Homo sapiens: one gene and its partners. The protein of the gene in region 2 purifies or fractionates together with the protein of the main gene of each other region. This does not show direct contact. Each region holds a gene or a part of one and is shown on either strand. Other genes may lie near its edges. The genes, in order: GINS1, CSNK1G2 and NISCH.

Evidence for each region.
Region 1: the proteins of CSNK1G2 (region 2) and GINS1 purify together in Homo sapiens (affinity purification with mass spectrometry; 2 studies listed by BioGRID and IntAct, with this or other methods). This does not show direct contact.
Region 3: the proteins of CSNK1G2 (region 2) and NISCH purify together in Homo sapiens (co-immunoprecipitation; 2 studies listed by BioGRID and IntAct, with this or other methods). This does not show direct contact.

The regions. Positions count from the first base shown.
Region 1 is NC_000020.11:25,416,988-25,424,926, reverse strand, and holds part of GINS1 (DNA replication complex GINS protein PSF1), read right to left. Parts: intron 7,824-7,939; coding exon 7,725-7,823; intron 6,823-7,724; coding exon 6,732-6,822; intron 5,244-6,731; coding exon of another isoform or gene 5,122-5,243; intron 4,082-5,121; coding exon of another isoform or gene 3,955-4,081; exon of another isoform or gene 3,939-3,954; intron 1-3,938. UniProt on the Homo sapiens protein: Required for correct functioning of the GINS complex, a complex that plays an essential role in the initiation of DNA replication, and progression of DNA replication forks.
Region 2 is NC_000019.10:1,964,708-1,972,646, reverse strand, and holds part of CSNK1G2 (casein kinase I), read right to left. Parts: intron 3,857-7,939; exon of another isoform or gene 3,742-3,856; intron 3,140-3,741; 5' UTR 2,875-3,139; coding exon 2,688-2,874; intron 1-2,687. UniProt on the Homo sapiens protein: Serine/threonine-protein kinase. Casein kinases are operationally defined by their preferential utilization of acidic proteins such as caseins as substrates. It can phosphorylate a large number of proteins. Participates in Wnt signaling.
Region 3 is NC_000003.12:52,457,939-52,465,877, reverse strand, and holds part of NISCH (nischarin), read right to left. Parts: intron 7,217-7,939; coding exon 7,034-7,216; intron 1-7,033. UniProt on the Homo sapiens protein: Acts either as the functional imidazoline-1 receptor (I1R) candidate or as a membrane-associated mediator of the I1R signaling.

The DNA of each region.
Region 1 (7,939 bases), on a different chromosome or scaffold from region 2:
AAGACGCCATTTCAGAATTATATCTTCAAACTCTGCATTGATGCTATTTCTGAAAACTATAAAACATTGTTAAGAAAACCCAAATGTCCACCAGCTGATGAATGGATATGTGCCCATATGATGGAACATTATTTAACCATAAGTAACAATGAAGTTCTGAAACGTATTGCCATTACCACATGAAAGACAGAAGGCCACATATTGCATGATTCTACTCATATGAAAAACCTGTAATAGGTAAATCTATAGAGACAGAAAGTAGATTCGGGATTTCCAGGAGCTGGGAGGAGGGAAGAAAATATAGAGTAACTATAAAGGGGACAGGGCTTCTTTGTAGGGTGATGAAAATATTCTCAAATAAGAATGTGGTATTGGATGCACAACAACTCTGAATATACTAAAAACCACTGCACTGTACAATTTAAGATGGTAAACTTCACAGTGTATGAATCATATCTCAGTAAATCTGCTATTTTAAAAAAAAAGTTGAAAACAATGAAAGACCTAAATAATACCATATTCACAGATTGGATGATTCAATATTGTAATAACGTCAACAATCTATAGATTCAATTCAATCTCAATCAAAATCTTAACTTTCTTTAAAATGGAACCTGACAAACTGAGTCTAAAATTTACATGGAAGTGCAAAGGGCTAATAGTTGAAATGCTCTCAAAAAAGAACAAGATGGGAACTTGCTCCAACTATACTATATAGTTACAGTAATTACAACAGTGGAATTGGTATAAGAACAGATAGACTAGCATAACAGAAGAAAAAGTCCTCCCATTCAGAATCCACAGGAATACTGACACTCAATGTATGACAAAGGTGGCACCATGCACACAGTGATGGGAGAGGCAGATCTGTTCAATACATGGTGCTGGGTCATCTCAATATCTATATTCAAAATGAAGCATGCCTCCTGTAGTATACACAAAACTTAATCCCAATACTGTAGATCTCTTTGTAAAAGGTAAAATATAGCTCCTAAAAGATTACATAGAAAAAAGGCCGGGCACGGTGGCTCACGCCTGTAATCCCAGAACTTTGAGAGGCCGAGGCGGGTGGATCATGAGGTCAGGAGATTGAGACCATCCTGGCTAACATGGTGAAACCCCGTCTCTACTAAAAATACAAAAAAATTAGCCAGGCGTGGTGGCGGGCGCCAGTAGTCCCAGCTACTCGGGAGGCTGAGGAAGAAGAATGGCATGAACCCGGGAGGTAGAGCTTGCAGTGAGCTGAGATCATGCCACTGCACTCCAGCCTGGGGGCAACAGAGAGACTCCGTCTCGGAAAAAAAAAAAAAAAAAGAGAGAAGAAAAATATCTTGGGAGGCTGAGGTAGGAGAATGGCTTGAACCCGGGAGGTGGAGCTTGCAGTGAGCCAAGATTGAGCCACTGCACTCCAGCCTGGGCGACAGAGTGAGATGCCGTCTCAAAAAAAAAAAAAAAAAAAAAAAAAAAAAAAAAAGAAAAGAAAAATATCTTAATAACCTTAATAACCTCTGGGTAGGCCAGGCACGGTGGCTCACTCCTGTAATCCCAGCTTTGGGAGACCAAGGTGGGCATATCTCTTGAGGCCAGGAGTTCAAGACCAGCCTGGTGAACATGGTGAAACCCCACCTCCACTAATAATACAAAAATTAGCCGGGCATGGTGGCACACACCTGTAGTCCCAGCTACTCCAGAGGCTGAAGCAGGAGGATTGCTTGAACCAGGGAGGCGGAGGTTGCAGTGAGCCGAGCTATGCCACTGCACTCCAGCCTGTGCGACAGAGTCAAACTGTCTCTCAAAAAAAACAAAAAAAAAACCAGAAATACTATTCAGCATTAAAAAGGAATAAGCTCGGCCAGGTGTGGTGGCTCACACCTGTAATCCCAGCACTTTGGGAGGCTGGGGCAGGTGGACCACCTGAGGTCGGGAGTTCAAGACCAGCCTGACCAACATGGAGAAACCCATCTCTGCTAAAAATACAAAAAATTAGCCAGGCGTGGTGGTGCATGCCTGTAATCCCAGATAGCTGGGAGGCTGAGGCAAGAGAATCGCTTGAACCCGGGAGGCGGGGGTTGCGGTCAGCCAAGATCACGCCACAGCACTCCAGCCTGGGCAACAAGAGCAAAAAACTCCGTCTAAACAAAATAAAAAACAAGGAATGAGCTCTTGCTAATATATCAACAGATTAGAATCTCAAAAATATTACATTTAGTGAAAGTCATCAATCATTAAAGGATACTGCATGAATCTATATAAAGTTCAAAAAATGGGCAACACTAAATTATAGTGTTTAGAAATGCATGCTTAGGTGGTAAATGGCAAGTTTTTTTGTTGCTGTTTTAAGACAGGGTCTCACTGTCACCCAGGCTGGAGTGCAGTGGCGCAATCTCAGCTTACTACAACCTCTACCTCCAAAGCTCAAGTGATCCTCCCACCTCAGCCTTCTGAGTAGCTGGGACCACAGGCGCATGCCACCACACTTAGCTAAGTTTTTTTTTGTTTTTTTTTTTCTTTTTTTGGTAGAGATAGGGTTTCACCCTGTTGCTCAGGCTGGTCTCAAACTCGTGAGCTCAGGCAATCCATCCACCTTGGCCTCTCAAAGTGCTGGGGTTGCGGGTGTGAGCCACTGCATCCAGAGCAATAAGATTTTTAAAAATAAGGAAGTGATTAGTCTGCACAAAAGTCAGGAGGGTAGTGATCACTGGGAGGAGGGACACAAAGGTTCCGGAGCAATGTTCTTTCTTGAACAGGGTGATGGATACATGGGAATTCCTCAGTGACACATCATTGGGCTGTACATCTTCGTTTTCTGCACCTTTTCAGATGTGTTTGCATGTGCCTGTTTTTATGTTAGATTTCACAATGCAAATGGTTAAATTAAGTGATTTTAAAAGATTTAAAAGGTATGTATGCCAAGGTGGTAAAAACTGCATTGTTTTTTATAATATAAAGGATAAAAAATGATATTTTGTATTGATAAGTATGAAGAAAAGTTCTCTGAGAGAGATCTTGCCAAATGAGTCAAACATGGGTGTTTCCACTGTGGTCTTTTCTACTTTGTCTCCACTGAGAAGAGTGTAACAGACCCCAAAGAGAAGATGAAGTGGAAGAAAAATCAGAAGCTGTTTTGACAATGAGGGTGTTACCCTCATTCAGTCTCATTCACAGATAAAAGGGAAATGTAGAATAAGCACGTTACTTCCACAAAAGAACATACTGATATAGTCACAAATTTTTTAGTTTTCCTTATGGAAAAATATTAATAGGAAAGAAAAAAATACCTATTTTCACTATCTCTCATGTTAGTGGCTTAAAGATTCTAAACAGAAACTTAGGAAATCAAAAAACAAAAGATGTTACTATTTTAAAAACATAAAAGATGTTACTACTTTGAAAACAAAAGATGTTATTATTTTAAAAACATAAAGGATGTTACTACTTTGAAAACAAAAGATGTTACTACTTTGAAATCAGATAATAAGATTTTTACTTATCATCAGTGTGCTTTCATATTCTTTCAATGGTGTTTTCTCTAAACATTAACACATGATCATCTGTTTCATGTTAGTAACCTTATTTTAGCTCTGCTTTTACTTTTATTGCTAGCCTGAGTCAACAATATTGAAATCATCACTCCCAGTAATAAAGTGCTTACTATATACCAGGAATTTGCTAAAATTTTAATATGCATTATTTTCTCTTTTTCATTGCCCCATGATGTAACTACTATTATTATTTTCTTTTTATTCATGAAGGACTGAAGCTTTGAGAGATTAGATAATTTACCAAAGGGCTCAGAGTTAACAAGGCAGGGATCTGAATTTAGGTGGCAGACTCAAGCCCATGTGCTTCAGTCACCCATTGAAGCACTATCCTTGGGTAATACAGATACCTATGATGACATTCAGACCTCATAGGCTCCTATAAGCTGTCAGGGATACCTGGAAATATTCTTTGTTACTGGTCCAAAATGGCTGATGCAGTTGCCACGATGCAATTGCTCAAGCAGAGATGTCTGTGGTCTACTACAGAGTTTATCTGTATTAATCTCTTCTCATCCTTCAGTGTTTCCAAAACATCACTACTAAGAGAACGAGACCATGTATATTCCTTTTATTCTTTTTCTTTTTTTCTTTTTTTTTTTTTTTGAGACAGGGTCTCACTCTCTCTCCCAGACCAGAGTGCAGTGGTGCGATCTCAGCTCATCGCAACCTCCACCTCCCAGGCTCAAGCAATTGTCCTGCCCTCAGCCTCCCTGACCAGCTGGGATTACAGGTGCACACCACCACACCCAGCTAATCTTTGTATTTTTAGTAGAAACAGGGTTTCACCATGTTGGCCAGGCTGGTATATTCCTTTTTATAGATGAGGTCACTGGGGTAGAAGGAAGTCATTTGCCAGTTTTGCAGTAATTCACAAACTCTTCCAAGAAACTATCTCAGGTTTCACTATTCTCAAACAACTTAATCTCTAGACCCATTAATATTATTTTATATAAGGCCAGGCACTGTGGCTCACACTTGTAATCCCAGCACTTTGGGAGGCTGAGGTGGGCAGATCATCAGGTCAGGAGCTCAGGACCAGCCTGGCCAATACAGTGAAACCCCGTCTCTACTAAAAATACAAAAATTAGCTGGGTGTAGTGGTGGGCACCTGTAATCCCAGTTACTCGGGATGCTGAGGCAGGAGAATCGCTTGAACCCGGGAGGCAGAGGTTTCAGTGAGCCAAGATCGTGCCACTGCACTCCAGCTGGAGCAACAGAGCGAGACTCCATCTCAAAAAAATATATATATATTTTATTTGCTGTTAACATTGTTATATTTCATTAAAATAGAAACTGACTTTGGGAACTCAGTAATCACAGAAAAGTGCCACCCTTACAGAAACAATGCCCAATATGAAATCTAATTGATGTGCTTGAATAAATGCAGCTTGTAATCATTTACTAAATTGTAAGAAACATATTAATCGCCAGGCGCTGTGGCTCACACCTGGAATCCCAGCACTTTGGGAGGCCAAGAGGGGCAGATCACAAGGTCAGGAGTTCGAGACCAGCCTAGCCAACATAGTGAAACCCTGTCTCTACTAAAATACAAAAATTAGCCAGGCATGGAGGCACGCACCTGTAATCACAGCTACTTGGCAGGCTGAGGCAGGAGAATTGCTTGAAGCCAGGAGGCGGAAGTTGCAGTGAGCAGAGAATGCACCACTGTACTCCAGCCTGGGCAACAGAGCGAGATTCCATCTCAAAAAATACACAAAAAAATTAATCTAAAATATTGTATGAGAAAAATCATTAAAGCTACTGTCGTTAGAGAAACATAATGTTCTGTTCATCTCACCATAATACACAGTAAGTACCCCAAAGTTCAATTAATATAAGTAGATTTGAACACAAAGAGCATAAAGTGAGGTACTAACATGTTACCAATTTCGTAGTCACTGGTAAATCTGAGGTAGAGATTACTCATTTATTTATGCAGAAAATGAACAGAATGAAAATGAAGCTATGACAACAAATAGATCACTTTCAAAAATGTGCAGAATCTAATGGCAAACACATTGAATATTTGTTTTTTTTTTTTCTTTAAGTTCTGGGATACATGTGCTGAACGTGCAGGTTTGTTACATAGGTATACATGTGCCATGGTGGTTTGCTGCACTGAATATTTTCTTTCTTAAGCTCTGTGCTATGCAACTGTAATGTAGTAACTGTTAACATTTATTGAGTGCCATCCTATGCTGTGCTCCACATGGACCACCTGAAGTAACCCTGTGATAGGCCTTGTAATAACACTGTTGTAGAATAAAGAATTTGGTGGGCCTCTCTCCCTCATTCCTGGGAGGTAGCTTCTAAATTCTTGTACTTTCTCAAGTAATAGGAGTGTCTTGTTATTTATGATGTGCCCTGAGAGTATGTGCTACTCAGGTGACTCGTGGTGAACCCCTACATAGTCTGTGCTAACAAGATGACTCAGAGTTGGGACTGGCTACCCCAGAAAGACCAACCATGTGATTAAAGTATTGGGCCTTTGGCCCTCCTGATGTCAGTCTGACCTCCAGGGAGGGGAAGAGGGATGAAGATTGAACTCAATCACAGGGCCAGCAATTTAATCAGTCATGTCTATGTAATGAAGCCCCAATAAACACTCTGGACATCAAAGCTTGTGTGAGCTTCCTTAGTTGACAATAACTGCAGGTAGTTAGTGTCAAAAGTCATTGCAACCTGTAATAGATAGGTAATATGATCTTCATCCTGTAACAAGGAAATTTAGGCACAGCAACAGGTCAAGTGACTTGCTCAATATTAGACAGCAGAGATTTGAACCTAAGCCCACCTGACTCCAATCCTATGTCCTTAAATAATGGGCTAGTTCTTTGCCTCAGTGACTAGGCAAATATGAATTTTGATTAGGAAAGTATATATACACATGTAAACATTTCATGGAATATCACCAAATAATAATGCCAGTTTTTTAATCCCACTGATGGATCACTAATAAGTAACATCATGGGACTCTATTTTGTTAAGTAATAATAGAATTTTCCACATATGATTTAGAATTACTCCTCACCACATAGTTCCCCTCACATTATATACTAAATACCAGCCAAAAATTGGGGAAAAACAGACATTAAACACAAAAAGAGGAATACCAATAAACACTATTATAGAACAATGCCAGAACTTTAGCATTTTCAAAATTTATAAACTTGAACAATGCTAACTCACTTCTTCAGCAGCCATGTGAAATCGTAATGCATTTGGCAAGACGCTACCATATTCCCATCTGAGTGCTCTGATCCGAAGCAAGCGGTCATACCTAGGACATCAAGAAGGTATTGGGTGGCATAAGAATAAACGGGGGATCACGTGTGGACTTCATTTGGCCCCTGATGCAAACACACCAGCTCTAAACAGACATCTTAGGGAAAACAAGAAGAACATGAACACAGTCTGAGAGTCGACCTGAAGGCACTGTCCACTCCTCCACGTGTGACAGCAGCACAGTAGTCCTGGGAAAAAGGTCCCTAAGGTCCTTATTTCTTTCTTTCCCCCGCCTTTTTTTGTTTGAGACAGAGTTTTGCTCTTGTCACCCAGCCTGGAGTGCAATGGCACGATCTCCGTTCACTACAACCTCTGGCTCCCAGATTCAAGCAATTCTCCTGCCTCAGCCTCCCAAGTAGCTGAGATTAGGCACCCGCTACCACTCCCAGCTAATTTTTGTATTTTTAGTAGAGACAGGGTTTCACCATGTTGGCCAGGCTGGTCTCGAACTCCTGATCCCAGATGATCCACCCGCCTTGGCCTCCAAAATTGCTGGGATTATAGGCATGAGCCACTGTGCCTGGCCAAAGGTCCTTATTTCTAAGACAAAGAAAAAATAGTAAGAACACTACCGTATTCAGTAGTGAAAGACCGTGATGCACTTAAATAGTGTGGCACCAACAAGTGAAACACGATGAAAAAAATATGGCAAAATAATAAAAATTGTTAAAACCATATGATAGCTCCACTGGGGTTCATTATAGTATTATTCTCCCTACTTTTAAAAGTGTTGTGATTTTTCATAATAAAAAATTAAAAAAATGAAAACACAGAGGAAAAATTTAGAATGCTTACAAAGAGAGAGAGATCTAAGATTTCATGTTACCCATTTGAGATGGTCAACTGGGAAGCCACACAGAAAATCCTGCCACCCCAAGCAAAAACTGAGAAGCTTACAGGTATGCTACAGTGCAGCGTCGATTTCTTAACAGAGAACAGTGTCGAAATTTGATAGTTGGTATCAAATCACTTCGTCCACCTGACTTTGCTTCATTCCTGATAGGAGCATTTAAAAAGAAAAAAAATATGTACTTTTCAGGATAAGTAAAATTTTCAAAGCCAACTAACAACTGAGTTACATGCTTGTTTTTAATCCATTTGTGATTAGCAGT
Region 2 (7,939 bases):
CCATCTCAAAAACAAAACAAAACAAAGCAAAGCAAAGCTGAGATGGAAAAACGTTTCATGAAATAATGGCTCACATTTTTCCAAAGTTAATTTGAAAAAGTACCAACACAGAGATCCAAGAAGTCAGTGGATCCCAAGCAGGATAAAAACAGAAAGCCTCATCTAAGGAGAGCATAGTCAATATTTTAAATCAAAGATAAAAACCTTAAAAACAGAAAAAACGACACATTCTAGAACATTCTAGACAACGGAACAACATTCAACAACCGGAGTCCACAACAGGCTCAACATCAAAGCCACCAACAGTCCTGAGTGCTGGGGACGTGGAGTGCTCGAGGAGCCCAGTGCTATTCAGTTCTATTTGGGCAGTTAGTTCTATTCAGAAGGGCCCAAATCCAGAAACAGCCAAGCGTCCCTGCGCTGGGAGCAGATGAAGAAGGGCTGGTGTGTCCTCCGATGGACGGCCTCCCGGCACCCCTGAGAAACCACGATGTGCGGCTGCCCGCGAAGCACACAGCGCCCAAAATGCCAGGCTGAAGAGAGCGCAAACCGCAACTCAGTAAAAGCTGGCGTCACCAGGCCGGGCGCAGTGGCTCACGCCTGTAATCCCAGCACTTTGGGAGGCCGAGGTGGGTGGATCACAAGGTCAGGAGATCAAGACCATCCTGGCTAACACAGTGAAACCCCATCTCTACTAAAAATACAAAATATTAGCCGGGTGTGGTGGCGGGCGCCTGTAGTCCCAGCTACTCGGGAGGCTGAGGCAGGAGAATGGCGTGAACCCGGGACGCGGAGCTTGCAGTGAGCCGAGATTGCGCCACTGCACTCCAGCCTGGGTGACCGAGCGAGACTCCGTCTCAAAAAAAAAAAAAAAAAAAAAGCTGGCATCACCCACGTCACTCTCATCTGCCTACAGGGACCTGCACTATTCAGCAGCCTGCAACCGCCGCCCAAGGACAGGACCCACATAGCCATCTGGGTTCCCAAAAGCCATACCCCGCAGGCTGCAGGTCACGGGGCTGTGCCAGGCATGTGTGTGCAGATGAGCCTGTGTGCCTGTGTATGCGTGGTTGTGGCTGTGTGCGCCTGTGTGCGTGTGCTTTAGTGTGCACATGTGCATTTGTGGGCACGTGTGTACATGTCTGCATGTGTCTGCACGTGTGTCTGAGCGTGCACACACACACGGGGTTGGGAGGCCACAGCTCCTGTTGGGAAAAGCTCAGTCTCTTGGCTGAGAAACGGAGCCCGGGCCTCCTGAGCCACAGGCCGTCGGACCGGCAGTGAGGCTTCGTGGCCCAAGCCCAGCCTCTGCGCAGAGGTGGAATCCCAGCAGCCTCCCCAAGGGCTGGGGTGGGATCTGGTTCGGGTGGGGTCTCAAACCCCGGCCTCCTGGGGCCCTGGGTGCAACCAATGGGAACACAGAAACAGCCAACAGTGACCCCAACAGCTGCCCTCGCCTGGGAGAAGCTGCTTGACTCATAGGACACACACTTCTGCCGCATAACTGCCTGCTGAACCCTTCTGCCCACGAGTGGCAACTACCATTCATCCTCATTTAACAGGTGGGTAAAGTGAGGCAGGAGGTGGGAAGCAGGGCCACAAAACATGCCTGGGGTCCAGGCCGCCACAGCCCATGCTCCTGCGCCCCTGGGCGGCCGCTCTTGAAGATGCAGCCACATCATGACCACTGCGTGGGCCTGTTTCCCTCATCTGACAACCTCATCGGGCTGAGTGCCTGCCATGGGTGCCATGGGCACCGCCTGCCATGGGTGCCCACGTGAGGCCGATCCACTGCCGTGGCCTCTCGGACCTGCCCATCCTGCGCTCTTTCCCAGGGACCCTGATTCCCACCACGACAGACACTGACTGGGGGTGCACCTGGGTTCCCCGGACAACCCCAGCAACAGACGCCAAATGCCCTCCCGCAGGAGCTCCGGCAGCACCAGCAATAAATTTAACCACATTTCCGGGGATGATTCAGCTCCCTGGCCCAGCTAATCACAGACTGGGAACGGCCCCAAAGGTGCTCAGAGCTCCCCCAGGCCTGATGGTCATCTTCAGGCACCCCCACCCCAGGGAAGGCACCCCTGGCCAATGAGAGGCTCAGTCCTCGGCCCTGCTCCTCACGCCTGCCCGGGCAATCAGACCCCGACCCGGGAGAGGTTGGTGTGAGCAGAAGGGACGGAGCCAGGTGGGCCAGGTGCGGCCTTTTACATGGTGAAGCTGGGAGTGGCACACAGCAGTATCATCACCACAGAACAGTCACTCCAGCCACCTGACGCCAGCTCCGGGCTGGCCAAGACCTCCCACGAGCTGAGTGCCGGGCAGGCACCTGCCGTTAAAGCCGGGGCTTCGCCCAGCGTGCACATGGGCCATGAAAGTCATTCACAACTTAACATCGGGCTCCTTGCGGCGTGGCCTGGCCTGCTCTGGGCCACCTGCCTCCCAACAGAACTGTTTCCCGAAAAGGTGACAGGGCCAGAAACCCACTCTCCCCACAGAACCTCCTCGAAGGGAAGTGGCACTCGCACCACGACGGACTGATGATTCAACGCACCTGCCAGTGACATGGGGCGGCCCCGCCAGAGGCTCCAGTGACCCCGGGCGGCCCCACCAGAGGCTCCGGTGACTCGGGGCGGCCCTGCCAGCAGCCTCCCGACCCCACCTACCACCGAGCAGGGCCTCACCTAGGCGGAGCTCCCCGAAGTTGCCGCAGCCGATCTTCTTGCCGACGCGGAAGTTGGGGCCCACCATCAGGACCCCCGAGCTGGTCCCCGAGCTCCGGATGCCGTGGCTGCTCCGGCCCCCGCCGGCCTTGGACATTCTCCGGCCCTCCTCCGTCTCCCCTTTCCCTCCTTTCTTGTCAAAATCCATAAGTTTGTGATACCCTGGCCTCTCCACGGTGACTCTGCTGCCGTGCAAATCCCAAGTCTCTGGAAACCTGAGGTCTTGGCTCCTCTGTGGCTAGAACATCACTGCGGCCGGTGGGCGGGCGTGGGCCCGTGGCTCCCAGCTACTGAGACGCAGGCGTTCGGGCCGGCCAGGCCGCGCTGCTCTTCTCAGTGGCCTCGGGGTCGCTCTCGGGGGCAGGAGACATTCTGCTGACACATCCCACCGCCTCAAAGCTCACGGCTCACAGCTGCAGAGAAACAGAGGCACAGGTGAGCACCGGCAAGGCCCCCGCGGGGCCACTGAGGACACGGGGCGGAGGCCACAGAGGACACAGCCAGGAGACTGCTGGGCTGGAAGGAGCTCTGAAGGCCGGGGCATGATGAGCACCGTCCCTGCCCGGAACCCAGCTGGGAAGCACACATCACATGACATCAGAGGCCAGAGATCTCGGCGTGGCTGCCTGGGGACGAACAGGGTAGGGCTCAGGGGGCTTTCTGTAAAGCGGGATGGGTGGGTGGGTGGGTGGGTGGCACAGGTGGGAGAGTGTACTGCCAGGAGAGCATGACTGCCAATCCCGGGTAGAAGCCCTGAGGATCCTGAAGCCAGGGGAGCAGTCGCACCCCCAGACACAGAGGGGCCACACAACAGTCCCCGTATCCAGGCCCAGGGCCGCTCTGGGAAAGAGGGAGGGAGGCAGATGACAGCAGGCAGGCCCGAGGCAGGGACACAGGAGCCACCGAGCTGCCCCTGCCCATGGCGACTGGTTGATGCTGAGAGCGGGGAGAGTGGGCCGGAGGGCAGGAGGCCCCGGAGAGCCGGGCACTGATGCAGGAGCCCCCAGGGCCTGACCCAGGCTCGGGTTCTTCTCCAGCAGCCACTGGTGGAGCGGGGCAGGCTGGACGCCACTCGAGGCTGTGATGATGCCAGGCTGGGTCGGACCCATCCCCTTCGGTGCAGAGCGGAGCTGAGGAGGGAATGGCGGGGCTTGAGGGACCAGCGGAGCCAACAGCCACCTAAGCAAGGCTGGGCACGGGGCAGGCAGCAAACTTCTACCCCAGGGGAAAAGACAGAAGCCTCTGGTCCTGAGAAGGAACACGCAGTCCCTGCTCCCGGGATGGTGGGACCCCAGCCCACAGCCCCTCGCTGAGTCTGCACCACCTTAAATGCTCCCGAGCCCAGAGCTGAGGGCCCCAGAGCCTGTTGCCACCCACAGAGAAACGCCGTGTCTGGACAGGGGCTCATGGCTGAGGGGACTCTGTGCAGGTCGCTCTCTGGAGCGAGGGGGCCAGCCAGCCCCGGCTGGCATGGAGCCCAGTCTCAGCGCAGGCCCCGACGGGAGGCAGGACGGTCCCCAGCAAGGAGCCTCGGGACAGCCTGGGGAGGAGGGAGGAGGGAGGAGCCCCACCTGCAGAACTGAAGGGTGGTCAGGGGCAGCCTGGGGAGGAGGGAGGAGCCCCCACCTGCAGAACTGAAGGGTGGTCGGGGGCAGCCTGGGGAGGAGGGAGGAGCCCCACCTGCAGAACTGAAGGGTGGTCTGGGGCAGCCTGGGGAGGAGGGAGGAGGGAGGAGCCCCACCTGCAGAACTGAAGGGTGGTCAGGGACAGCCTGGGGAGGAGCCCCACCTGCAGAACTGAAGGGTGGTCGGGGGCAGCCTGGGGAGGAGGGAGGAGGGAGGAGCCCCACCTGCAGAACTGAAGGGTGGTGGGGGCAGCCTGGGGAGGAGGGAGGAGCCCCCACCTGCAGAACTGAAGGGTGGTCGGGGGCAGCCTGGGGAGGAGGGAGGAGCCCCACCTGCAGAACTGAAGGGTGGTCGGGGGCAGCCTGGGGAGAAGGGAGGAGGGAGGAGCCCCACCTGCAGAACTGAAGGGTGGTCGGGGGCAGCCTGGGGAGAAGGGAGGAGGGAGGAGCCCCACCTGCAGAACTGAAGGGTGGTCGGGGGCAGCCTGGGGAGGAGGGAGGAAGGAGGAGCCCCACCTGCAGAACTGAAGGGTGGTCGGGGGCAGCCTGGGGAGGAGGGAGGAAGGAGGAGCCCCACCTGCAGAACTGAAGGGTGGTGGGGGCAGCCTGGGGAGGAGGGAGGAGCCCCACCTGCAGAACTGAAGGGTGGCAGCTGTGGTGTTAACTGGACGCTCGGGTGGTGCAACCCCAGGGACGCGGCTGTCACCTCGTCGCCCTCAAGCCAGGTACCCGCCCAGGAGGCCAAGAACCCTGCACCGGGAGCCACCGCAGCCACCTGCCTGTCTGCACAGATCCTGCCGGGTCCTCCCTGACCCAGGCCCCAGCCACCCCTGGCCCCATTCTAGGGCTCCAGACAGACAGAAGCCCCACCCTCACTGAAGAAGGGGGACCACAGTTTGCTGCTGTGCCCCAGATGTGCAGGGGAAGAGGTTTCCTGCCAACCGGCAGGACGTAGGGGCCGCGGGTGAAGAGGGGCCGTGGGTGCACAGCCATCGCCGAAAATGTTAGGACAGGAACTCCCAGCTGAGTAAGCCACATCAGAAACGAAGGCACCGGCGTCACAAGCACTGCCCCCCTGGATGTGGCCCCTGCGTTCCGGTGCCAGAAACACCCTGTGGGGATCACAGGCCTTGGGTTCCGCACGGCAACAGCCGCTCGAATGTTCTGGTTTCCCAGTGCACACACAAGTTACGTTCACAGTATACCGTGGTCTAGGAAGTGTGCAGTAGCGTTGTGTCTAATCAAAGGACACACTTTAATTAAGCGGGGCGTGGTGTGCAAGCCTGTGGTCCCAGCTACTCGGGAGACTGAGGCGGGAGGATCGTTTGAGCCCAGGAGGCGGAGGCTGCAGTGAGCTATGATCGCACCACTGCACTCCAGCCTGGGGGATACAGCAAGACCCCATCTTAAATAAATAATAAAGAAATAAAAATACTTTACTGCTAAGCAATGGTAATGATCATGGGAACCGGGAGTGGCCCTAATCTCCCCGGAGAAGGGTCTTGCCTCAATGTGGACGGCGGCTGACTCGTTGGGGCGGTGGCTGCTGGAGGCTGGGGCAACTTCTTAAACTATGACCACAAAAAAGTTGGCCACAGCGATGGACTCTTCCTTTCATGAAAGATTTCTCTGTGGGGCGTGATGCTGTCTGATAGCATTGATTACCCACAGCAGAACGTCTTTCAGAACTGCAGTCGGTCCTCTCAACCCGGCCGCGGCTTCATCAACCGAGGTTCCGGGCTGTTCCAAGTTCTTTGTCCTCATTACCCCCAGGTTCACAGAATCTTCACTGGGACTAGAGCGCAACTGAAGCAACTCCCCTGCTCACCCTTCAGAGGCAACTCCTCACGTGTTAAAGTTTTCTCGCGAGACAGCGACAATGCAGTCACATCTCCAAGTCCTTCTCATTCTAGTTCTCTTGCTGCTTCTAAAACCTCTACAGTCCCTCCTCCACTGAAGTCCTGAACCCTCACAGTGATCTTTCAGGCCTGGGACCAACTTCTTCCAAACTTCCGCTCATCCTGACATGTTACCTCCTCCCATGGATCACGCGTGTCCTTCACAGCCTCTAGAACGGCAAAGCCTTTCCGGGGGTTTCAATTTACCCAATTTCCCCAGCTCCATCAGAGGAATTGCTCTCCACGGCACCTACAGGCACCTAGAGCCTTACAAATGTATTTCTCAATAATGAGAGTCATGGGCGGCTGCGGTGGCTCCTGCCTGTAACCCCGACACTTTGGGAGGCTGACGCAGGCAGACTGCTTGAGGCCGGGAGTTCAAGACCAGCCTGGGCAACACAGGGAGACCCTATCTTTACAAAAATAAAAACAAAATTAGCCAGTCATGGCGGTGCGCACCTGTGGTCCTAGCTACTTAGGAGACTGAGGTGAGAGGATCGCTTGAGCCTGGGAGGTGGAGGCTAAAGTGAGCTGTGATTCTGCTTCTCCACTGCAGCCTGGGAGACACAGTGAGACCGTGCCTCAAAAACACTAAGACTTGGCCAGGCACAGTGGCTCAGGCCTGTAGTCCCAGCACTTTGGGAGGCTGAGGCGGGCAGACTGCTTTGAGCTCAGGAGTTCAAGACCAGCCTGAGGAACATGGTGAAACCCCCTATGAAAAAATATAAAAATTAGCTGGGCATGGTGGCACGCACCTGTAGCCCCAGCTACTCAGGAGGCTGAGGAAAGACAATTGCTTCAACCCGGGAGGTGGAGGATGCAGTGAGCCAAGATCGTGCTACTGCACTCCAGCCTGGGTGACAGTGGGACACCTTGTCATGCATAAATAAATGAATGAATGACATGTCAAGGAGTCATCTTGATTTCCGAGTCATTCATTCATTCATTGATCCACAGGCTACAGGCTGGATGTTGTGCTAGCAGGGATGGAAACAATGATCTTTTTTTTTTTTTTGGAAACGGAGTCTCGCTCTGTCGCCCAGGCTGGAGTGCAGTGGCACAATCTCGGCTCACTGCAACCTCCGCCTCCTGGGTTCATGCCATTCTCCTGCCTCAGCCTCCTGAGTAGCTGGGACTAAAGGCGCCCGCCACCACGGCCGGTTAATTTTTTGTATTTTTAGTAGAGACGCGGTTTCACTGTGGTCTCGATCTCCTGACCTCGTGATCTGCCCGCCTTGGCCTCCCGAAGTGCTGGGATCACAGGTGTGAGCCACCGCGCCCGGCCGGAAACTGATCGTGTACGTCTCCACTAGGGATCTTGGGTGACCAGGTGCGTTGTCAGTGAGCAGTCATATTTTGAAAGAAATCTTTTTGGCCAGGCGCGGTGGCTCACACCTGTAATCCCAGCAGTTTGGGAGGCCGAGGCAGGCGGATCATGAAGTCAGGAGATCGAGACCATCCTGGCTAATACGCTGAAACCCCGTTTCTACTAAAATTACAAAAACATTAGCTGGGCATGGTCGTGGGCTCCTGTAGTCCCAGCTACTCGGGAAGCTGAGGCAGGAGAATGGGGTGAACCCGGGAGGGGGAGCTTGCAGTGAACCGAGATGGCACCACTGCACTCCAGCCTGGGTGACGAGCGAGAATCAGTCTCAAAAAAAAAAACAAAAAAACAAAAACTTTTTTCTGAA
Region 3 (7,939 bases), on a different chromosome or scaffold from region 2:
GCCCAACACTCTTCTAAGCCATTGACCTTCACTGCACAGTCTCTTGCAGGCCTCACAAGGACCCCAGCTCACCAGCCTCCAGCTCACAGGCAGGTTAAATGACTGACTTGGACTAAACCGTTGGGAAGTAGGGGTGGGAGATAAACTCGCCTCTGCCTGCCTCCAAGTCCACCACAGTTGGAGGTCCCGGCCCACATGGTGTGCTAGAATTCCGGATGGGATTCCATTTCACTGAGTTTGGAAACCTCTGTTCCAGGGGTTCTGGGATGAGGCCTGTCACCACGCGTCCAGGAGGGTCAGGACACAGCAATCTGAAGAGCAGCATAGCAACAGGCCAGTGCCACAGTGTGCCCCTCACTCATACAGGCGGCAACCCCTGCGCTCCCACCTAAAGTGGGCTGGTAAACAAGTAGTGCTTTCTTTCCTTGTTATTAAAATCCACACTGCAGGCTGGGTGTGGTGGCTCACGCCTGTAAACCGAGCGCTTTGGGAGGCCGAGGTGGGTGGATCACTTGAGCCCAGGAGTTCGAGACCAGCCTGGGCAACATGGAGAAACCCCATCTCCACAAAAAGTACAAAAATTAGCCAAGTACGGTGGCATATGCCTGTAGTCCCAGCTACTTGGGGGGTTGAGGTGGGAGGAGTGCTTGAGCCTGGGAGGTTGAGGCTGCAGTGAGCCGAGATGGTGCCACTGCACTCCAGCCTAGGCAATAGAGCAAGACCCTGTCTCAAAAAACAAACAAAATCCATACAGGAATATATTGTTATAAATCTTTGTGACCTTGGATTGGGCAATGGTTTCTCATGTATGATACCAAAACACAAGTGACCAAAGAAATTGATAAATTGAACTTAATCAAAATCTAAATCTTTTGTGCTTCAATGAAGACCATCAAGAAAATGAAAAGATGGCCGGGCATGGTGGCTTACGCCTGTTATCCCATCAATTTGGGAGGCTGAGGCAGGTGGATCACCTAAGGTCAGGAGTTCGAGACCAGCCTGGCCAACATAGTAAAACCCTGTCTCTACTAAAAATAGAAAAATTAGCTGGGCAGGCCGGATGTGGTGGCTCAGGCTGTAATGCCGGCACTTTGGGAGGCTGAGACAGGTGTATCACCTAAGGTCAGGAGTTCAAGACCAGCCTGGCCAACATGGTAAAACCCCATCTCTACTAAAAATACAAAAATCAGCCAGACGTGGTTGCGTACGCCTGTAGTCCCAGCTACTTGGGAGGCCGAGGCACGAGAATCGCTTGAACCCCAGGGGTGGAGGTTGCAGTGAGTCGAGATCACGCCACTATACTCCAGCTTGGGCAACAGAGCAAGAATCTGTCTCAAAAAAAAAAAAAAAAAAAAAAAAAGACAACTCACAGAATGTGAAAAAGTATTTGCATGTTTCTAAAAGTCTAGTAGCCAGAATATATAAAGAACTCTTACAACTCAACAACAAAGATAATCTGTTTTTTTTGTTTTTTTTGTTTTTTTAGACAGTCTTACTCTGTCACCCAGGCTGGAGTGCAGTGGTGTGGTCTCACTCATTGCAATCTTCGCCTCTCAGATTTAAGCCATTCTTGTGCGTCAGCCTCCCGAGGAGCTGAGATTACAGGCACACACCACCATGCCCGGCTAATTTCTGTATTTTTAGTAGAGACAGGGTTTCTCCATGTTGGCCAGGCTGGTCTCGAACTCCAGGCCTCAAGTGATCCGCCCACCTCAGCCTTCCAAAGTGCTGGGATTACAGGCATGAGCCACCCGCGCCCGGCCCAATCTGATTTTTAAAAAGACAAAGAATTGGATACTTTTCTCCAAAGAAAATACACAAATGGCCAAATATCATATGAAAAGAGGCTCAGGCCAGGTGTGGTGGCTCACACCTGTAATCTCAGCACTTTGGGAGGCCAAGGTGGGCGAATCACTTGAGGCCAGAAGTTCGAGACCATCCTGGCCGACATGGTGAAACCCCGTCTCTAATGAAAAAAATACAAAAATTAGCCAGGCGTGGTGGTGCACGCCTGTAGTCCCAGCTACTCGGGAGGCTGAGGCACGAGAATCGCTTGAACCCAGGAGACAGAGGTTGCAGTGAGCCGGGATCACATGCCTGCACCCCAGCCTGTGCGACAGAGCGAGACTCTGTCTCAGAAAAAAAAAAAAAAAAAAAAAAAAAGAGGTTCAATAACATTAGTCATTAGGGAAATGTAAATTAAAACCACAATGAGATACCACTTCACACCCACCAGAACAACTAAGATTTAAAAAAAAATGGACAAGAAGTGTTAAGCAAGAATGTGGGGAAATTAGAACCTATACACTGCCGATGGAAACGTCAAATGGTGCAACAACTGTGGAGAACAATTTGTTAGTTTCTCAAAAAGTCAAACATAGTTACCATATAACTCAGGTTCCACTTTTGGCTATATATCCAACAAAAATGAAAACATAAGTTCACACAAAAATTAACATACAAATGCTCATAGCAGCATCATTTGCAATGGCCAAAAATGGAAACAAACCTAACATCCATCAACTGCTAATAAATAAACATAATGTGGCATATCCAAATAATACACTATTACTCCGTCATAAAAGGACCAATGGATTCATGCTACAATATGAACGGACCTTGAAAAGATAAGGCTAAATGAAAGAAGCCAGTCACAAAAGGCCACACACTGTATGATTCTATTTATATGAAATGTCCAGAACAGGCAAATCCATAAGGACAGAAAGTAGATTAGTGACTGCCAGGGGCTGGGGGACAGAGGGATGGGAAGCTCCTGCTAACAGGTACAGGTTCCTTTTTGGGCTGATGAAATGTTCTGGAATTAGATAGTGGTGATGGTCGCTCAACTTTGTGAATATACTAAAAACTACTGAATTGTACACATTAAAAAGTTAATTTTATGGTATGTAAATTATATCTCAATTTTTAAAAATCCACACCATGGCCAGGCGTGGTGGCTCATGCCTGTAATCCCAGCACTTTGGGAGGCTGAGGCAGGTGGATCACGAGGTCAAGCGTTTGAGACCAGCCTCACCAACATAGTGAAACCCCGTCTCTACTAAAAATACAAAAAATTAGCTGGGTGTGGTGGCGGGCCATCTGTAATCCCAGCTACTCGGGAGGCTGAGGCAGGAGAATCACTTGAACCTGGGAGGTGGAGGTTGCAGTGAGCCGAGATCGTACCACTGCACTCCAGCCTGGCCAGTAAGAACGAAACTCCGTCTCAAAAAATAAAAATAAAAAAATTCACACCATAGCCAAATAGGGTTCCCTGGGTCCACCCTATCCAATGTCAGCAACACAAGAGGCAGAACACATGTGGAACAATTTCAGAGAGGATACAGACAGTATAAAAGTTAAGAGAAACATTCCCCAGAGAGCTCCCAGCCTGGAGAAAAGGCTGACAAATCTTTAGGCCCCAAATGAAGATCTAATCCAGTGGTTTTCAAGTGGGGGGCAATTTTGCCCCCCAGTGGGACATTTGGCAATGTCTGGAGACATCTTTAGTTGCCATAGCTGGGTGGGGAAGTGCTACTGGCATCCAGTGGGTAGAAGCCAGGGTGCTGCTAAACAATGCATGGGACAGCTCCTTACAGAAACAAATTATCCAGTCCAAAATGTCAACAGTGCTATGGCTGATCAACTGTGGGTTTAATCCAACGATGGGTTCAATTGCTTTTTTAAATCCTAGGATTTATATAACCTAGGGACCTGTTTGATAATACTAATTCCAAATATGTCAAAACTTCTACAAGTAGCGGAGCCTGCCTCAAACCAGAACCAGATGTAGCCGGCCCCAGGCACATCTCAGGCAAACCAGTTTCAAAAGAGCAGTCCAGGCCTTTCCACCCTCAGAGCCAGGCACACGTGAGGCAGCCAGCGAGACCTCCTCTCCTCAAAGGCATAGGTCTCAAGCAAGGAATTAATACCGTCAAAGGACTGCATGTCAGGTTTCATCCCTAAATGGCTAACCAAAGCTTTCTTAAAATACAATATTTCTTTTTTTTTTTTTTTTGTGACGGAGTCTTGCTCTGTCGCCCAGGCTAGAGTGCAGTGACACGATCTTGGCTCACTGCAAGCTCTGCCTCCCGGGTTCACGCCATTCTCCTGCCTCAGCCTCCCGAGTAGCTAGGACTACAGGAGCCCACCACCATGCCTGGCTAATTTTTTGTATTTTTAGTAGAGACGGGGTTTCACCGTGTTAGCCAGGATGGTCTCGATCTCCTGACCTCGTGATCCACCCGCCTCGGCCTCCCAAAGTGCTGGGATTACAGGCGTGAGCCACTGCGCCCGGCCTTTAAAGTACATTATTTCTTAAAATACTAACCAGTAAAGTTTATCTGAAAGACTTGCATAAGGAATGCAAATTTTTTCTCACATAAGAAAGTATAAAAATATGTTTACGAAAGGGTATGTTGCTAACCCTATACTTGCTGGTATATGCTAAATAAAATCCAAAGCATATACACAGGTCCCATCTGTGAATGCTATCTACTTTTCCACCTGTCCCTGCCAAGCTCAGTGGCCCCAGGTTAGCACTCGCCACCAAATTTCTAGGCTCTTTAGTGATCCAAGAAAGGTTCAACTGTCTTACTCTGAAAAGAGTTTAAGGAAGTTGTTTCTTCTGTTTTTGTTTTTTTCTTTGAGACAGAGTCTCTGTGGCCCATGCTGAAGTGCAGTGGCATAACCTCGGCTCACTGCAACCTCCCCTTCCCAGGTTCAAGCGACTCTCATGCCTCTCTCCTGAGTAGCTGGGACTACAGGCATGAGTCACCACGCGCAGCTAATTTTTGTATTTTTAGTAGCGACAGGGTTTCGCTATGTTGGCCAGGCTGGTCTCGAACTCCTGGCCTCAAGTGATCTGCCTGTCTGGGCCTTCCCAAAGTGCTGGGATTACAGGCGTGAGCCACTGCACCTGGCCAAGAAAGTTGTATTTTAAATACAGCTGGGCTTTTAGGACCATAATCCACAGGTTACTTCAAGGTGAGCCTGAAAAGGGAGTGGATTCTTCCCTGTCTTCATCATATAAAAGGAAAACAAGTAAATATAAATTATCTGAAAATCTATCACTCAGAGAAAACTACTCTTAGCATTTTGGTATACGTAAACCTTCTAGAATTTTCCTAGACAAATATGTCCATATCAACTTGTTTTTTGTAAAAATGAGACCATAGTCAGCCAGGTGCAGTGGCTCACACCTACAGTCTAAGCACTTTGAGAGGCAGAGGTGGGAGGATGGCTTGAGTTCGAGTTTGAGGCCAACCTGAGCAATACTGCAAGACCCCATCTCTACAAAAAAATTTTTAAAATTAGCTGGGTGTGGTGGCATGCACCTGTAGTTCCAGCTACTTGGGAAGTTGAGGCAGGAAGATCCCTTGAGCCCAGGAGTTTGAGGTTGCAGTGACCCATGATCAGGCCACTGTCCTCCAGCCTGAGCAATGGAGTGAGACCCTGTCTCAAAAAAAAAAAAAAAAAAATAGTACAGCCATACAGTTGGATACTGCTTAAGAAAGTTGCATTTTTTTTGAGACAGTGTCTGCTGGGAAGACTGGTGTGCTGCTGGGATAATGATGGTGGAGCTGCAGATTTCTTTTTTGTTTTATTTTCCCAAAGAGCTGGGATCACAGGCATGAGCCACTGTGCTCAGCCTGGCTGTACCCTTTGATTTTTTTTTTTTTTTTTTTTTTTTTTGAGATGAAGTCTTACTCTCACTCTGTTGCCCAGGCTGGAGTGCAGTGACATGATCTCGACTTACTGCAACCTCTGCTTCTTGGGTTCAAGCGATTCTCCTGCCTCAGCCTCCCAAATAGCTGGGATTACAGGCATCTGCCACCATACCCAGCTAATTTTTGTATTCTTAGTAGAGACAGGGTTTCACCATGTTAGCCAGGATGGTCTTGAACTCCTGACCTCAAGTGATCTGCCCACCTCAGCCTCTCAAAGTGCTGGGATTACAGGCATGAGCCACTGCACCTGGCCTGATTTTTTTTTTTTAACCTCTTCTACTAGACTTTAGGGTTGTCCTTACTATTTTGTTACAATCCTGGAATGACTACCTTTGTTCATATATCCTTTTTGCGGCTGCCTGATTTTTCCTTAGAAGAAATTCTCATAAATAGAACTGCTATTTAATATTGTGGTTTTGGCCAGGTGCGGTGGCACACGCCTGTAATCCCAGCACTTTGGGAGGCTGAGGCAGGCAGATCACTTGAGGTCAGGAGTTCCAGACCAGTCTGGCCAACATGGTGAAACCCCATCTCTACTAAAAATACAAAAATTAGCTGGGTGTGGTGGTGCAAGTCTGTAGTCCCAGCTACTCGGGAGGCTGAGGCAGGAGAATTGCTTGAACCCAAGAGGCGGAGGTTGTAGTGAGCCGAGATCGCACCACTGCACTCCAGCCTAGGTGACAGAGCAAGACTCCGTCTCAAAAGCACAAATATTGTGGTTTCACACTGCCTAAGTGCCCTTCTTAAAGTCTGACAACGCATTCTGTCACCGGCAACCTATGAAAGTTGTTCCTCTTTCAAGGACGGAGTACAGAGCTGTTCTATGACACACTCTCCCATCACAGGAAGGTGTCCACCCTCAACCTTAGCACCCTGGCAGCGCGGACCCTGATGACACGCCCCAAGATGGTGATATTCCACCATCACAGACTAATCCCTTAATTAGTTTTGGGCTATGCACCAACAACTCAACAATAGTCTATCCCAGGTGTCAGCTATTTCTAATCCAGCCTCATCCATCTGGATGGAAACCTAGCTTAAACACCCACAGGCCATTTTTGCTAAACAAAATGCCTTGTGGTGGAGGAAAGCATCTCTGTGGCCACATTTAGTCTAATTTACGGCAAATCTGTCAACTAACATGCTTCTGGCCACAATGCATTCCTAACCAGGGTGACGTTCCTCCATCTTCTAACCTAGGGTCAAACCCCAGCCCACCTCAAAGCTGAGGTCTCCCCTGGTTTGCTGCCTCAAGTTTGGCAGTTGTGGGTTTGCAGGCACAGGTGAAAACCCGATGAGGAACTTACATAGAAGTGAAAATGCAAGAAGTGGGCCAGTACTCTGGGGGTCACGCCAGGGAAGGCAGCCAGGAGCTTCTGGAGGTAGACCTCCAGATCCTTCTCCCTCTTCTCCACCAAGCTTCTTGAGTTTTTCCCAATTATCTTTTTGGGCGGAAGCAGATTTTTATCAATCTTTCTCTCTGCAACGAGCTGTAAAAAAACATAAGCACATCAACCACAGACTAAGAGGCTCTGTGCCTATGTAAGACCAAGGCAAGAAGCTTGAGGGCAGGCGCTTGTCAGCACTTGCACAGCCCCTCCCTGCAGTAGTACCAAAATCAGTGACCAAACTAGTGCACCTGGGATTTGGCCTCTTTAAATCCAATTAGCATTAGAAATACCAATACAATTCTAGACAAGGAATTCCATCTGGAGACTTTAGAGACATTCAGAAAAGTAACACCTTTTGCCCCTAAAATTGCCATCTTTTCCAAGCCAGAGTAAAAACCAATCAGGGCAGCGGTGTGTCTTTAAAACAGTTATGCTGCAAATGACCCAGAGAAAGACAGCATCTCCAAAAGCAAAAAAAAGAGATGGAATCACAGCCAGATATTAAAGTAAGGCTTTGGAATAGCTATCGCTAGATCAAACAAGTTCAAACCTGTCCCCTTCCCAGGAAACTGTCTGAGCATCTCATACCCAAGCTAGGACTGGAAATATTAAAACTGAAATTCAAATATGCTCCTTGCAGAGTGGCTCATGCTAGAGCTGAAGGCTAGCATTTACATGCTATATTAATGAACGCAGTTATATTAACAAAGTGGTTTATTAAAGAACTATAGAGATGGAACCTGTTTTGCCCTAAAACTAATATGTGGCACAATGGAAAGTTGGCCTACGGGTCCCCCAGCCCTGAGATACGTGCTCCCAGCT